Regions from separate parts of the Homo sapiens genome. Here region 1 is linked to region 2. Evidence: fine-mapped expression QTL. A gene starts in region 2. The other region holds a variant in brackets. All regions are shown on one strand. Distances are between the middles of the regions. Region 1 overlaps GALNT14 (polypeptide N-acetylgalactosaminyltransferase 14). Region 2 holds the start of CAPN13 (calpain 13).

Region 1 (8,772 bases), 210 kb after region 2:
CAAATTCCTGGCCTCAAGCAATCCTCCCATCTTAGCTTCCCAAAGTGCTGGGATTACAGGTATGAACCACTGCACCCTGCCAACCCTCAGATTTTTCAACACCATCAGCTCTCTTCAGTTTCCAAGGACCAGATTCTCTCTGAGGTCCCTTCCTTCAGAACCTTAGATCTGCATGGGTGTGACATCCACGTCTCACTCACTAAATGGCTCCCCCCAGCCTTGCTGTCTCCAGTCCTGTCAAAGAGTCACTCTCAGCACATTAAGCATTAAGGCTTTCCAGGCAGAAAAGATGACTGTACCTTCTTCTCGCCTGCCTCCAAAATCAAGGCTGGAAGAGAGGCAGCCAGCATGAGTGGTGGGAGGATGCGGTGCATAGAGAAAGTAGGTCATTAGTGGTAAAGACTACAATTTTAAAGCGGTTGTTAATGCTCTGTTTATACGGATTTCTTCAAATGTGACATTTTAATGGCATAATAATTGTGTGATTACAGTGCAGTCGACACCGCTCCGGGAGGAAAGGCGACAGGGACTCTAGCTTCCTGCTGGGGGAGGCGGCTCCCTGCACGGGTGGCCGGGGACCATGTGGCACTGCTCAGGCCAGGATGCCAGACAAGCATGAGAAATGGCTCCCTGGAGGGCCCTCTGCTAGACAAGGGCCATAGGTTCCCAGGAAACTTGCATCTGGCTTAGCCCTTGAACAAAATCAATGCCCCGGGCTGCAGGAGGGGAGATAATGACAGCAGAACTTGCAATTCACTTCATTCATTCACTTCATGCATTCATTTATTTATTCATTATTTCTTGAGTTCTTACTGTAAACTGAGGGAAAAGGCCAATAGATATGCAGAAAGAATGAAAGAAGAACAAATGGAGGAGGCAGAGGGCAAGGAAGAGGATCTCACATTTATTGGGCACCTACTGGATGCTCAGCACTAAGGCACAATTTGGCACATTCATCTTCCTTGGCCCTTCAGCAACATCCTACCCCCTGGAAAAGCCCCCCTTCGAGGGTCCTTGTCTCTCTGTTTCAGAATACTTTCTCCTGGGCTTCTCAGACTTTGGCATCTTCTTCATTTCCTTCTCTGGCTCCTCCCTTCCCCTGATTTCTCATTGTTGGAAGTGTGCATGGATTTAGCCCTGGTCCCTCCTCTCCACTCGTTACACTCTCCCTACAGGTGACTTCCTCCATTCCTGTGCCTTGACAACCTTCTATAGATGGAGGATTCCAATATAGTTTTCCAGCCCAGATCTCTTTTCTGAGCTCCAGAACAATATCAAAAAAACGCCTACTGGACATGCCCACTTAAGGTCTCACAAGCATCTCACCTTGCATGGATTTCAAATGGAACTCTTGATTTGCCCATTGGAACTGGTGCCTCTTCCAGGCTTTCACAAGTAAAGAAATGGCACCACCAGCCACATAGCTGCACAAGTCAGGAATCTGAGAGTTACCCTCGACAATTCCTTCTTCCTCATTCTAAATCTCACTCTAATCACTTGAACCCACACACAACTAACCCATCCCCATGTCCTGTTGGTTCTGCCTGCAAAGCATGCCTCCATCCAGCCACCCTCCTTTTCCCATCTCTACAACCATACCCAACCACCACCAACTGCATTCTGGAATACTGCATTTGATCCCTCCAATTCATTTTCCAAAGTCACCTTGTTTTGTTTTGTTTCGTTTTTAGACATAGTCTTGCTCTGTCACCCATGCTGCAGTGCAATGGCATGATCTTGGCTCATTGCAACCTCCGCCTCCTGAGTTCAAGCGGTTCTCATGCCTCAGTCTCCTGAGTAGTTGGGATTACAGGAGCCCACCACCACATCTGCCTAATTTTTGTATCTTTTTAGTAGAGACGGGGTTTCACCATGTTGGTCAGCCTGGTCTCAAACTCCTGACTTCAGGTGATCCACCTGCCTCAGCCTCCCAAAGTGCTGGGATTACAGGCGTGAACCACTGCGCCTGGCCCAAAGTCGCCTTCTTAAAAACGACATCTGTGGCTGGGCGTGGTAGCTCATGCCTGTAATCCCAACACTTTGGGAGGCCAAGGCGGGCAGATCACGAGGTCAGGAGATCCAGACCATCCTGGCTAACACGGTAAAACCCCATCTCTACTAAAAATACAAAAAATAAATAAATAAATAAATTAGCCGGGCGGGGTGGTGAGCACCTGTAGTCCCAGCTACTTGGGAGGCTGAGGCAGGAGAATGGCGTGAACCCGGGAGGTGGAGCTTGCAGTGAGCCGGGATTGCGCCACTGCACTCCAGCCTGGGCAACAGAGAGAGACTCTGTCTCAAGATGACATTCGTTCCCGTCTCTCCCATTCTGGCTCAGAATCCCTCCAGCGGCTCCCACTGCACTCAGAATGCTGTCCTCACTCTTTCCTGTGGCCCCCAAGGCCCTGCCTGATCAGAACCTGCAAACTCTCCACACTTACCCCTCCCCATCCCTCTTAGCTCATTATGTTCCAGCCACACTGGCCGTTCTTCCCTTTCTCATCCATCTCATCCCATCTCATAGGGCTTTCTGCCTGGAATACTCTCAATCTGATCAACTGTGGCCAGCAAGGAAGTGGCAAGATGGGAAACCAGAACCATTTTGCCTACAAAAAACTTTCAATGGGCCTGGCTTTTCAGAAAAGAGAAGACCAGCAAGGGCTGGTGCCATCAGGGAGAGGTTCAGCAGGGAGGCAAGCCTTGGCCTAGGCCTACAGGAATTAACTAGACTGAGACAGAAGCACAGGAAGGAGGGAGGGAAGGGATAGGGAGGGTGGACACCCACGAGAGCTGGGTCTGCAATCTCTCCTCCAGTTACTGTCTCTGTGACCTTGGGAAGTGACTTAACCTCTCTCCCTCAACTGAGAGTTAGCTGTCTGGCTGTCTATTCTGCAAAACTGTGATGCCATTTTACGGATCTAATGGACTAAAATAAGTAAAGCACTAAGCTCTGTGCCAGGCATACTTTTAGCACTCAAAAAAGAATAGCTACCACTTTGGTAGCAAAGTGAAGACAACGTTGTATGTCCATGGGGCAGTAAGAGCTGACTTTTAGATCTGGCCTCCACAACCTTGAATCCTCGGGTAAACCATTTCTGCTCACTGGGTCTCTGGTTACTTTTCCCACCTATAAAATATAGGGGTTACATAGCAGAGGCATCCTTAACTATTTGAGGAGACAGGGCCCTATTTTTCAGTGTAATAGAAGCCATGGTCTTTTCTTCCCCAGAAATAGATGCAAAATTCTGCTCACAGGATCTAGGATCCAGTGCCACCCTGGGGCCACAGGAGGCACCTGGCTGTTAAGAGGAGAGGGCGCCTCTCTGAAAGATGAGCTCACACTGGCAGACCTGTCTGGCAGCAAATAAATCTATGATACTCTCCCTTCTCCCTCCCAGCTACCCCTCAGGGGGCCAAAGCTGGCTCCTCAGCTCTGCCAGCCTCTGCCCACCCCATGCCGAGCACAGTCAGGAGGCATGCTGTGCAGAGGGACTCCATAATTGGTCCCTGCTCTGTTTGTACTTCAAACAACAACCTTGAGATGTGTTCTCTGGACGTGCCGCCTGGCTCTGGCTGCCATAACGCTCAGCCGGGAAACACATCTCCAGAGATCCACAGCACTGGGGAAAAGCTAGGCATTCTTCAGCTGATGCCCAGGAGCTGAAGGTGTTTGAAACGGGCAGGGGCAAAGAAGGGTGGGGAACGCCAGTCTGCTCAGGAAATTCTCTACTCCTTGGTGACAGTTTCCAGTACAGAAGATATCTCCTCATTCTCTTTGCAGAGCCGACCAACAGATAAGCGCTGGGGATTTATGTCTTTAGACCTGTATTTAATTTTTCACACTGCTGCTGGAATGGCTCTTCTAAGACACGGTTGGATCCCACTCACAGAATAAAGGCCAAGTTCTTTGCCGTGGTCTGCAAGTACTGCCCTGGACTTTTGGTCTGGCTTAACCCTGGTTCCCACACACTGGCATCCTTCCATTAAACTGCCACCACCATGACTTTAAGGAAGCAAGCAAATCTGGTCCCTGCAACCTAATAGTGTCCCCTCTTCTTATGGCAGCACCTATAGTTACCTGTTTATTGGGTCTCTTCCACAAAACAGCGTGTGTCCTGGAGGCAGGAGTGTGGCTTTTCTCTCTGAGAGGTTGGTAATAAAAACTGCTCACAGCCTCAGTGCAGCTCTCCCTTCCCACCTCACTCCACCAAGGCCCTCAGGCTACAGACAAGGGGACAGACACAGAACTCACAGCCCTCAAACTATGCCTTGTGGAGGAAATGAACAGGCTCAGACATGGTGAAAAAAGGGTTAAGAATGAACTTGCCCTGAATCAGGGTGTGTAGGTCAAGCAAGATGCAAAGGAACTGCATGGCAATGATGCAAACATGCCCCTGTGTGGGTGGGGCCAAAACCAAAACCAAACAAACCAACAAAATGGAACACAGTATGAAAAAAAATCCAAAAACAACACCACCCACACACACAAAACAAAAACCCCAGTCTAAATAAAAACAACTAAACAAATGGAAGGAAATTACCCAAACGTGCTTCATGCTATGGAATAGCTTAAAAGCATGAATTTAATAAAATAAGAGCTAAAGGATTAGATGATTAAATAAAGCAATGGAATAAAGAATGATAAAACTGAGAACCACAAAACACTTTTGCAGAACCAATAAATACATGTTGAAACTCCAAGAAGCAGTGCAGGCACAGCAGGAAATCTAATTACTGATACCAACTAAAGGGTTCCAGTCCTGGCTCTGACACTCTTGAGCAGTGGGACCTTGGGCAAGTCACTGGGACTCAGAGGAGAAAGATTTAAATTATTAAAGCAACTACAGGAGAGAATAAAATGTATAGAAAGAGCAAAGGTGATCCAACATCAGAAAACTGGTGAACCTGAAGCAGAGAAACAGATGGAACACACAAAACAGTCTTCATCTTTTTAAATAAAAACCTCCTGAGATGAATAAAGATCTGAGTCTGCACATCAAAATTGCACACCACATTCCATAAAAAATTGATACAAAGGGATTGACACGAAGATGTTTCCTGGTTTAGGTATCGAACTTCCAAATGCAAGAAAGAAATCATCAAGCACCCAGGCAGAA[C/A]CAACAAGTCACCTACAGAAGGGGAAATGTTCAGCTGACCTCAAACTTCCCCGCGGCAGCTTTCCATGTCAGCGGATAATGAAGCAACACCCACGGGGCTGAGTCCAAATGTGACCAGAAGCATTTTAACCTGCTGAGGTGCCGTTCAAGTACGGACAGCAGGAGTGTGATATTCCCACATCCAAGCTCAGGGATGACAGCACCTATGAGCCCATTTTGAAGCAGCCACTAGAATCCACTATGGCAGACTTCTAATTTGGACCCCAGTCTGTCTGGCCCATGCTCTTTCTGTTAATGCCATTTCTGCTTTATATATGAATTTTGTTCCCACATGCAGTCAATGAAGAGGTGGTTCAAAATAAAAAACCCAAGAATGGAGCAGAAGAACCAGTAGAGCACTGAATCTATGTAATTACAAAACTAAAAGTAAACAGCTATGGGAATGGTCATGAAACACTACAAAAGTGTTATAGACTCTGACAATCTAAAAATAACGATTGTGCAGACAATGGCTTTAAGTTTCTGTCCCTGTAAGATTTCATGAAAGCTGCACTTAAGGAATGAAAACAGATGAACCTAAATTTTCTCAAGACCTATGCTCTGACACTGGCTCCACTGCTTACTGTTTATGTGATTTGGAGGAAGCTGCTTAACCTGTTTGAACCTCAGTTCCATCACCTGTAAAATGGGGAGAATAATGCCTATTTCACAGGGTTTTAAGAATTAAATGAAAATACTGTAGGTAAAAAGCAGTGGCTTGCACATAGTAAATGTCAATTAAGAGGAGAAGCTGACTAAAGATGAGAATAAAAGTGAACATCTCCCTTCCCCCTTCCTCCCCAAAAAAGGCAAGGGGGTACCCATCAGCTCTGGATCTGGATAGCTAGTGAGGCTCTGGGCTCTCCAGTAGGTTGCTGTATCAATTCACAATGTTGCAACTCATTGCAGGGAGAAGCCCCTCCCACAGAGAGGCATTGGGCCCCCAGTTTCCAACCACACAGAGAGCAAACTCTTTTCCCCAGGACTGAGGCAGAGAAACTGAAGACTGAAGGAAAAGCAAGCCTTCACCTCCTGGCAGGGGCATGGTGAGAAGCAGTGTGGATCCAGCTGCTTGCCAGTGGATGCCCCCTTCTGAAGGCCTGAACAGGTCCCCATATGACTAGCCCTGAGGAACGCAGCATGCTGGGACACACGATACATGTAGGTCAGCAAGTCAGATTCTAGACCCAATCTATCTGCCACCCACTAGCAGTGTGACCTTGAGCAAGTCACTTGAACTCTCCCTATTTCCTCATCGTAGAATAAGAGGGTAGGAGTCAATGATCCCTAAAGCACCCCTGCGTTTACCATGTATATAGAGTGCAAAGTTCTGTGTGGGTTGTACCCTTACACCAGTCTTTCCTGCCATAATTAATTCAACAAGAACCCCAGAGAAAGGAAGAGGAAGGAGAAGGAAACATGAGACAGAAGTGTAAATTAGCAGGTGAGGGAATGCATAAAGGAGGGAGGGAAGGGCTAAAGTTCTGTGGCCTCTGAAGAATCAACCACTCGCTAGCTTTAAAGAGGCAGGAGCTTGGCCGGGCACCGTGGCTCATGCCTGTAATCCCAGCACTTTGGGAGGCTGAGGTGGGTGGATCACCTGAGGTCAGGAGTTTGAGACCAGCCTGACCAACTTGGTGAAACCTCATCTCTACTAAAAATACAAAAACGTTAGCTGGGCATAGTGGTGCACTCCTGTAATCCCAGCTACTTGGGAGGCTGAGGCAGGAGAATCGCTTGAACCTGGGAGGCTGAGGTTGCAGTGAGCCAAGAGCGTACCATTGCACTCCAGCCTGGGTGACAAGAGCTAACATCCATCTCAAAGGAAAAAAAAAAAAAAAAAAAGAGATGGGAACTCACTCTCTGCCAGTGAGAGTTGAGAGTTAGTGACTACAGCCTCTGCAGGGCACCCCAAATCCACTCCTGACAGGAGAATTGCAGAAAGAAGGCAACTCTGCCTTATAAAAAGGGTCCGGAAAATCTGCCTCCATCTATACTAAAATCGATGGGCTAACAGTTGAGATGAATCAGAATGTCTGCAAAGTCTCAAAGTACATCCTCCAATGTACTAATGGCAAAAGGGAAAAAAAGAGTAATTTTATGATGGAGACTGCTGGCCAGTACCACCCTAGCCAAGCAATCAAGATTAACATTACCAGTAATAAAACATATCAATATCACATATCCCCTATAAGGATGTACTGACAAGGGCTCAACACCACGTCTGTAGTATTTTTGCCAAAAACACGTAGCTTCAGTCTAATCTGGAGAAAACATCAGACAAACCCAATGGAGAGACATTCTACAAAACAACTGACTAGAACTCTTCAGCGTGTCAAGGTCACGTAAGACAAGGAAAGACATCACAGATTGGAAGAGACTATTACAATTAAATGCAAGGTGGATCCTGGCTTGGTAACCAGAGCCACTGGGATCATCCCACCAGACAAGCTGCCTAAACGAGACCTTGAAGCAGGCTGAGGGGGCATGAAATCTAGAATGGGTAGAGGAGGAAGGAGATGATGAGAGTCACAAACAATTGCAGCAGCAGGGCCTAGAGTTTGCTCTACTAGCCCTTCTGCATGGATCCGCTCGGGCTACCATCACAAAACACCATAGACCACGGGGCTTAAACAACAGAAGTTTATTTTCTCACAGCTCTGGACGCTGGCAGTCCAAGATCAACGTGCGAACAGGGTTAGTTTCTCCTGAGGCCTCTCCACTTGGCCCGCAGATGGCCGTCTTCTGGCTGAGTCCTCATGTGGTTTTTTCTCTGTGTGTACATCCCCAATGTCTCTTTCTGGATTTCTAATCTTCCCTTCTTGTAAGGACACCAATCAGATTGTATTATGCCAACCTTGATTACCTCCTTATAGGCCATCTCTCCAAATACAGTCACATGGGGGTTAGAGCTCCAACGTATGAATGGTAGAGGGTAGAGAAGGGACACAATTCAGGCGATTACACCTTTCCTTACAGAGCTTCCTAGAAACTGGGACTAAACAGAATCCCAGAGAAGCTGTACCAGGATAGAGGGATGAACCACAGTGGGTGCCACTGTGCCCCACACGAACTCCTTCCACTGGGCCTGCACACCCATCTCTCAGCTGCTAGGAGTGCTGGCTGCAAACTTCTACAGAGACCTGCCCCCCAGAACAAGACCTGCCTCTCCTGGGAGGTATATCCCCAACTCCAGGGAGCAACTGGTGCCAGTGGCTGAGCAATCTCTTCTCCAAGGCTCCCCTTGGAACCAGGTTGAAATCTCCTACTATGAGATACATCCTTGCAGAGCATCTTCCCCCGCCTGCCCTGTCTTGCTTCCCTCACTCCCCTCCTCCTGGGAGTGCTCTCATTAAATTTACAAGGCTCTGCTTCTATGGAATCTGACTCAAGACACAAAGCACTACCTACAAAGCTTAGGATAGTGCCTGGCACACAAAAGGGATCACGAGGTGTTAGCTATCATCCTCACAACATACCACGCTCTGTGCTGGACGAACCGTACACATTATTCACTGAATCCTCAAAAACCCTGCAAGGCAAATAATGTGATGATCACTTTATGGTTAAGCAAGGGTCTCAAAGCTAGCTATGGCAGACTTCTAATTTGGACCCC
Region 2 (8,772 bases):
CGAAGGCAGTGTGTGGCTGTGATGGGAGACAGCGCCCCTCTGTGTCTCTGGTCTGCAGGCTGGGACAGGGTCTTGTTCAGTCCTCTGAACTGTGTGGGAGGTGCTGGTCAGACCTGGTCCACAGGCATGGGAGGTGGACATGGCAGGGCTGACCAGTGGAGATCAGAGGGCAGAGTGCTGCCAGAGGGACCATTCTTTCAGAGGGAAAGGAAACAAACCTCCTGGCTGCTCCCAATTTTAAAGGTCCCTTGGGACTTACTTGGCCGAAGTGAGGATGTTAACCCCAGAGTCCTGGCTGTCCTCCAGCCCAAGTCCTTAGAGGCAGCTCGTCACCCCAGCCACTACCGTGGGACATGGTACACGTCCCATCTCATGTTGAACTCACCAGAGAGGGCGGCAGTGGGCAAATCTCCACTTCATAACCCTACAACATGTATTAACAATTTGGATCTCTTTATTCACTAAATAGTTTGTCTCTGAGGCAACACAAGAGATAGATGAGGTGACCTTTAGCTGCCTTTCAACATGAGTATCATGGATTACAAGAGGCTGGGAGACTCCTTGGGGATTGCCTTGTTCACCTCTCTATTATTGAGACAAGGAAACAGGCTTAAGGCTTGGCTGAGCTTTCCTGGTTGTTTCCCGGGAGAATGAGCTCTGCAGATTGGTAAAAGCTTCTCATGCACCCCCACAGCCTTCCCTTATACTGCAGAGTTTTTTATTCAACAGGGTTTGTGCAAAGCAAAAAGTAGTGCATAGTGGAGGAGAGTGCCCTGAGAATTCAGGAATCAAGACAAAAGAGACTGAGCCCATGAACACAGGTCCAACTGGAGTTCAGTATGGGAGGCTCTGGTGCACTCAGTTCAACTGGTTCCTTTGTTTTGGCTTTCTCAGAGCCTGTTCTGTTTGTTTGTTTTGAGACAGAGTCTCACTCTGTCAGCAAGGCTGGAGTGCAGTGGCGCAACCTCGGCTCACTGCAACCTCCACCTCCCTGCTTCATGCAATTCCCCTGCCTCAGCCTCCCAAGTAGCTGGGATTACAGGTGCATGCTACCATGCCTGTCTAATTTTTTTGTATTTTTAGTAGAGACAGAGTTTCACCATGTTGGCCAGACTGGCCTCGAACTCCTGACCTCAGGCAATCCGCCCACCTCGGCCTCCCAAAGTGCTGGGATTACAGGCGTGAACAGAGCCTTTTTAAGTAAATTGGAATCATAACTCTCTGAGGAGGGAAGAGTAGGAGGCAACATTCATCCAAATATTTGATCATAAATGCTTTATATCAAGGAGCCCCCAGCAACAGCCCCCAAAATTAGTGTTCTATGTATACCATGCTTTAGGAAACACTTGACCAAAAGATAGAGTCCCAAGGGTGGTAGAAAATCAACACCTCCTCTTGATTCTGCTCCCATCTTTTGCATGGCCGTGGACTTCCTTGCTGTCTATCAGTGGCATGCTCCACCATGGACGTTCTGAGAGAGTTAGGATGCCCTCAACCTGACTTCTTCCAAACCTTGAGGAGAGATGGAATGGACCAGCCTATCCAAAGTCCCCTTTATGGTTTTCTCATGGGAGAAAGAGGTGACATCTAGGCAGGAACATTAGTGCTGTACGCAGTGTTCAGCAGATATTAATGATAATTCAGTCTTTATTAAACCTTTCTTAGGTGCCATCTCAGGTTCTCTTAGCCTCAACCTGTCTCTAGGACTCTTGGTCCCTTTTTTACTCCAGCCAAGGAAGTGGCTCTTCTGACCACTTCTGGACTCAGATGAGGTGCCAAGCCTCTAGCAATTAGATCTAGTTTTCCCAGTGGCTGCCACAGGGGTCAGAAGACACAAGCTGGAAGTGCAGGACAGTTAACTCCCCATAGGGCAAGCTTTGAACAATAAGAGAGGAGACAGAGTGAGCCAACATATAAATGTCCTCTCTACCCTTGCTCGGATAGACTCTTCCAAGGCACAATGCATCTGCAACGCCAGTCCAGAGGGGCCCTGCTTTGGCCAAGTGGCTGGTCATGTCTCTTTGTGAAGAGAGGCCAGGTGGTGGCACATCATCCCTCACTGCTTCCCCTTTTTCTCTTCCCATTTCCCACTTCCCTGACTCTCACTCCCCTGGTGTCTTACCTTAAGTGCTAAGTAGCACTTAAGCTTTGCCTCAGGCTTTGTTTTATAGAGAACCCAGGCTAAAATAATGTCAACAATAATGACTAAAATATCTTCAGCACTTGCCATGTGCTCAAGTACTGCTAAGTGCTTTCCATATAGGATCTCATTTGATCCTTTCACTGATCTTTTGGGGTAGATTACTGTTGCTACCATGTCTTAGTGATGAGGAAACTGGGACCCCCAAGAGGTTAAGGAGCATGCCCCAAATCACACAGCTCACCATATGGAAGCATCAAGCACAATGCTTGATACGGAGTGAGCCTCAGGGCCAGTAGGTTGGTCTTTTTTTTTTGAGACAGGGTCTTGCTCTGTCACTCAGGCTGGAGTGCAGTGGCATGATCATAGCTCACTGAAGCCTCAACCTCCTGGGCTCAAGCAATCCTTTCACCTCAACCATGGACCCCTCCCCCTGCCTCCAATAGCTGGGACTACAGGTGTGCACCACCACATGTAGCTAATATTTTTTCCCAGACCCCCAATTTTTAATTTATTTTTGTAGAGACAGGGTTTCACCATGTTGCCCAGGCTGGTCTTGAACTCCTGGGATCAAGCAATCTGTCCACCTCGGCCTCCCAAAGTGTTGAGATTACAGGTGTGAGCCACAGTGCTTGGCTTAATGTGTGCATTTCTTCATAGCATCTTTTCTTCTAAGGTGTTCTTTCAAGAGGGTAACTGAATACAACCAAATAACTAGGGGACAAGACAGGGTACCTACCAGGCACAGCAGAACTCCAGCTCTGTCATTTGCATCTGGTATAAACTTTTGCAGCAAGTCACTCACCGGTCCCTCACTTTTTCCATCTACAAAATGGGATAATGAACTCATGCTATATATAGCTTTTGCCTATTACACAGTTGGTAGATTATTACATTTCCATCAACCAATCTACTAATAAGTAAGCCTCCCTACAGCTGTCACTCCTCCAACCTTCAAAATAACAACAACAACAACAACAACAACAAAAACCCACAATACTTATGTCAAGGTGGGTACAAAGGTGAGACAATTCAAGAGGATAATCTGATTGAAAGTCTAGTTAATGCCACTCGGGGGTAACCAAAGTTGTGTTTGTGACCCAGGACAAATGGGACAGTCAGTAGTTCATGACCCAACTGTAACTATAGAGGGAAAATATCTGCACTTATTCTAATCTGGTTAACTTGGGTCCAAGCTGAGCAGCTGGAACTGTCTCCCTGAGAACAGCATCACATCTCAAAGATTACATAACTTTAGCAGTTACAGAGACACATGTGTGTGACCATGACACCACTAGAGGCATATAGGAACCTCCTGAATCTCTGAAGTTGTAATGATCTGTCTTTTGTGATTAACCCAGAGTTGTCAACTTCATTCCTATAACTAATAAGCTAGATGATTAGAAAACAAAGGGCCCAGGTCCCATTCTTCCCTTTAGCAAATGTTTATTAAGCACCTACTATCTAACAGAAACTACACATCAGTGCACAAAGAAGACATGATTTCTGCCATCAATGTGTCCCTTACGGTGAACACAGCCCTCAAGGTCACAACTTAGAATGATCAGAAATCGAAGGTGACAGAATGATTAAGAAATACTCTCTTTGCATGAAATATGCAAAGTTTGGATTAGATTCTCTTAGAAAATTAACTCCCACTTTGCCCTAGTTTTTCTTAAAGCATATCCTTGGACCACCTGCATCAAAAAAACCCAGCTTCCAGAGCTACTGAATATGTACCTTGGGAGGTGGGAACTCAGAAGCGACATCATGAAGCTCTCTAGAAAATTGTACATGCTCACTAATGTTTAGAGGACTGCCTTGGTCCACAGCTCTGGGACATGACCACGCACAACTTACCTGTTTCCTAGGCAGGTGTGTCTGATGGAGGAGGGGAGACGGGCAGGTTCCACAGGCTCTCAGGTTAGAGAGTGGTGGAGGAGACTGGCAGAGGAGGAGAGCATGGCCGGCCGTCTTGGAGAAAGAGCAGTGCTGGTGTCTGCTTACTCCTGACCTCAGGCTTTTCCTTATATGGGTGTACCAGGTAAAGGCAGGCTCCACCTTCGTTAAACAGTGACTTCAGCATTGGGCAGTGGCCTGCCACCTCTTGGAGAGAGAGAGGACATTGAATGTAAACAGCAACAGCTTCCAGATTCTCCGCCCCAAGCCTATCTCTGCCTTATCCCACCTCACTTCCTGGGGCCCCTAAGCTGCCCGTTTCTTGGCTCTTGCAGTTTTCATTGTTTCCAGATATTTAAGTTTCTTTATCTTTATTCTGCTTCAGGGAATTTGTGTTTTGTTTTGGTTTGTTTTACAAAACCCCTCTGCTGAGAAAAGACTGAGGGAAGCAACCTTCCTTCAGGCCTCATTCTCATACAGGAAAGTACAATTGCCATGTCTCCTGCATCAAGAGTGGCCACTCCACGTCAATCATATCACATCTCTTTCTACTAGACGCAGTATCTTCTTTCTACAAATACATTGTAGAACACATTAACTCCTGGGCATGGCGAGACCCAGGGAAGGTCTCTGCATCATCCCTGCTTGCTGGATGGGGCAGAAAGAGATGAGGCGTGTAAAGTGCATGTTTCCTGTTCTCAAATCCAAGGGGCTATTTGCTTTTCTGGCATCTTTAATTCCTTGATGTTCTTCATCCCCATTCATAAGTGCTCTTTAGAAGCCAGTTCCAGAACCCTGATCGCATGGCACACCCTATGCTATAGGCAATAATGATAAAATAGGTAAAACAGGGAAACAATGTGGAAATCACCAAAAACTGTTATGACTGGTCCATTCCCAAATTCTGATGAGTAGAAAGGGATATTTGGCACATGAATGAAGAATCTGAGAAGCTGGAAAGTATGGATATGAGTTTTAACCCCAGTTTTGCAACTTTTGGCTGTGTGACCTGGGCAAGTCCCTTCCCATCTTAGTCTATTAATCCGTGAGCTGAGGATTATGATGCTTACCCTGTCTGCCTTGTGTTTGTTTAGTGGGATTCCTGCATCCCAGCGGACACCTTCTATTAGAAATTTCACTATAAATACAGTAAACAATACACACACACACACTATTGCATAAACATCATCAGTGAATAAATACGCAGATATCTGTGGTGCATGTTCAAAATGATTTTACTAATAGAGCATGCAATGAAAAATGTTGGAAAGCCATAGTTTCAGAAAAAAATGGTGAGAAAATGCTTCAGAAAGCCCTACCCACAAGGATATATCACAAGACAGTGTCTCAAGAAAATTAATTGGGAGTTTTCTTGCTTATTGATGATGGTTTTGTCATCTCCCATCTCTAAAAATATATTTTTCCCCCTAAGAGTGGGAGCTGTTATCCCCAGAGCAGTCTTTGGGAGTACTGAGTTAAAAAGGGAAACAGCTCCCGATGGAGTGTTCTAGGTGCCAAGAAACAAGCCGCTCTGGGTGATAATTGTGCCGGAAGAATGGCTTAGGTGAGGGACCCTGTCAAGAACACCTGTGCACAAATCCCAGGGGCTGTTTTCTTTTCTGGCATCTTTGATTCTTTGGTGTTCTTCCTCCCATTTATAGGTGCTCTTTAGAAGCCAATTCTCAGTGATTTGTTTTTTCCAGAGAATTCCAGCCGAAGGCTATAAACTGGGCAACACCTAACAGTAAGTTCTTAGCTGGACTTGCTCCAACTCTGAAGGCCGTGTGGCATGCCCCTTAAATGCTTCCAATGCCTTTCTGGCATTCCCTGCTGAGCACTGCATAGCTGCCCTGAGATGCAGTCCTTTGCGGCATGCATGGGACCCACCACAGCCCTCCTCTCCCTCTGAGTCTCGATCTCCTTCACTGTATGTGATGGCTTCTGTGTCACGGAGCCCCACTGGGGCCTCCCCTGCCACTACCTGTGTCTACCAAATACACTGATCCTGCTATGGCTGTCCAAGCCTGGCCTGTGAGGGCTGTTCTTCGAGTGCCAACTGTGGGTGTAGGAAATGCCGTCATTGCCATTGTGCTGTGGCCATACCTGCACTTCCTCTGCCACGCCATGACTGCCCCTGATGTGACTGGCTCCTGCACTCATGCCGCTGACATTTAGTGCTCAGTGTCCTAAAGAAATGCAAAGAAATAGCTCTTTTTTTGCAATCACTTCGAGCCAGAAGAAAACTGGAGCCAGACTAGGCTCAGGGTCCCCGTCCTCCCCTTATGAACCTAGGCTACAGTCCTTGAACCAATCTTGCCCACAGGGAGACCACCTTCTCTGAGAGAGACTTCTTTCTCCAGAGACTCCTTACTCAATCATGTCAACACACTCCTGAGTGCTCCCACTCACCAACCTGTAGCCATGCCTCAGAATACCCAGATCTTGAGAGACATAACTCTTCCTCTCTCCTTCCTTCCCCTTCTCCTTTCTGTCTTCTTCCCCCAACCCCACTGTTCTGTCTCCCTCTCTGCCTCTCCAACATTCTCTTACAAACTGTTTCTCATGCCATGTTGCCAGGCACTGCACCAGGCTCAGGGAACACAGCAGCAGGTCCAGCGGACACACAAGCCCAGTGGACTTAGAATCTAGTGAGAGACACACATGAAACCAATAACCACAAAAGCAGCCAGATTATTTCTCTTGCAATTAGTGCTATGAAGGGGATTTGCAGGTTCTAGGAGACACCCAAACAGGAAAAAGTAGGCAGTGCCTCCACTGAGGAGTCATGAGACGCCCTCCTGGGGAGTGAAGGATGTGGGGAGCCAGCCAGGAGGAGAGGGTCGAGGAGGAGGCTGTGGTGAGACTGGTAAGAATGTGCAAATCCTGTGTACAGCTTGATAAATGTTCACAAAGGAAACCCAAGTTACCGGCATCCAGATTAAGAAACACCATTACCAGAACCCAGAAGCTCCTTTGCACCCTTTCTCATAATGTCCTTTGGTTTACCCTCAAGGTAAACTGTCCTGAGTCAGTTAATTTTGAAAAGCCTTATCCTCTTTTCCTTTATAAGAAAACAAACCCTGTGTTGACTTAGGGAATTAAATCAAATGACCCTGTAAAATATCACAAAGGGGACTGTTTTGGCAGGGGAAACAGGTATACAGAGTGTTTACCACATGGTTAAATGGATCATTTAGCAGATTTCATGTACATTTCATGTATTTGTACATTCCCCTGTGGGTGGAAATAGCAAAGTCAACAAAGTGCAGTGATTTTTATTAATGCCGAAAAGTATGAAGTGCCTGGAGGTCACCCAGCTTGAGTTTGCTGTGCCATGGCTGCCAGCTAGGCAGATTACAAACTACCAAGTCAAGCCCAGGCCTATTACACCCCGGTTCCTTCTTGTGCCCTGGGGGACAGAACCCCAGCAAAAGCCAGAGTTTCCATTCTTATGCATAGATGAGAACACAGAGTGTGTGTGCGTGGTGGGGCAGCAGGAGGCGTGGAGGCAAGAGGAACATAAGGAAGCCAGAGATGGTTTAAAAATGAGTGATGTTCCTTATTATAAAATACTCATCACAGGCTGGGTGCAGTAGCTCACGCCTGTAATCCCAGCAGTTTGAGAGGCTAAAGCGAGTGGATCACTTGAAGTCAGGTGTTCAAGACCAGCCTGGGCAACATGGTGAAACCCCGTCTCTACTAAAAATACAAAAATTAGCCAGGTGTGGTGGTGCATGCCTGTAATCCCAGCTACTCAGGAGGCTGGGGCAGGAGACTAGCTTGAATCTGGGAGGCAGAGGCTGCAGTGAGCTGAGATCACACCACTATACTCCAGCCTGGGTGACAGAGCAAGATTGTCTCAAAAAATAAAATACAATAAACAAAATACTCATCACAGAAACTTTTGAAAAATTATTTAAAAGTTAAAAAATAACCATAATCTTATACTCAGAGATAATGATTATTTTTCGTCTTCCTTTTTCTAGACACAGCCACACATAATGCAGACATTTCAGTCACTGGCGCCTACAAGTGCTTGCAAGAGATGTCGACTCAGTGCTCACGTTCTGAATGCACTGGCTTGGAGCCCTTTCCCAGCTGATGCAACGTCTCCCCCTGGGAATCTCTGGGAAGCCCCGAGAGTGTCTGCTGGTTGTCCACCGAACATCTTCTGCATTCCATTAGGCATTGTGGTCTCTGGGGGACACTATACCTTCTCTAAGGGAGCTCTGTCCTCCCTAGGGTTATGAACTCTTGATTGACCTCTCTCTATTGTCTCTAGCCCTAGTTCTTCCACTCCCAAATAGCTTCTCAGTGTCCCTCTCCCATGCAAATCACTTGAGCAAATATATGCCCCCAAAGCAAGTGTTTAGAATACCAAGTCTCAGCTGGGAGTGGTGAGGGATGCCTATTATCCCAGCTCCTTGGGTGGCTAAGGCAGGAGGATCACTTAAACCCACAAGTTTGAGACCAGCCTGGGCAACATAGCAAGACCCTGTCTCAATAAAAATAAAGATTAAGAATTAAAGAAAATAAATAAATTCAACCATAACTTAAAACAAAGAATATCAAGTCCTTAATCTAAACTTATTCTCAATAGGATCACCCTATTTCTCTCTTGTTCCTTCTCTCTCTCCCACATACATCCTTTCCTTTCCCCCCAATCACAAGATTGAGCTTAAACTATATATTGTTTTGCAGCCTACTTTTCTTCATTTTAAATTAGATCATGA

The links. PIP is the estimated chance that this variant, and not a neighbour inherited with it, causes the effect.
Region 1: its variant is fine-mapped to the expression of CAPN13 in whole blood (TOPMed, PIP above 0.99).

What each region holds. Positions count from the first base shown.
Region 1 is chr2:31,008,316-31,017,087 of GRCh38, forward strand. All of the region lies in intron 1 of GALNT14 (polypeptide N-acetylgalactosaminyltransferase 14), which reads right to left. Among named protein-coding and RNA genes, the nearest start is that of GALNT14, 130 kb to the right of the region's middle. The variant C/A (reference allele first, on the strand shown) is at 5,118.
Region 2 is chr2:30,803,302-30,812,073 of GRCh38, forward strand. CAPN13 (calpain 13) reads right to left here and starts at 4,145. Exons shown (of 23, transcript NM_144575.3): 1 at 4,001-4,145. It overlaps LOC124905982 (a long non-coding RNA gene), which reads right to left. Exons shown (of 4, transcript XR_007086268.1): 4 at 5,895-6,225.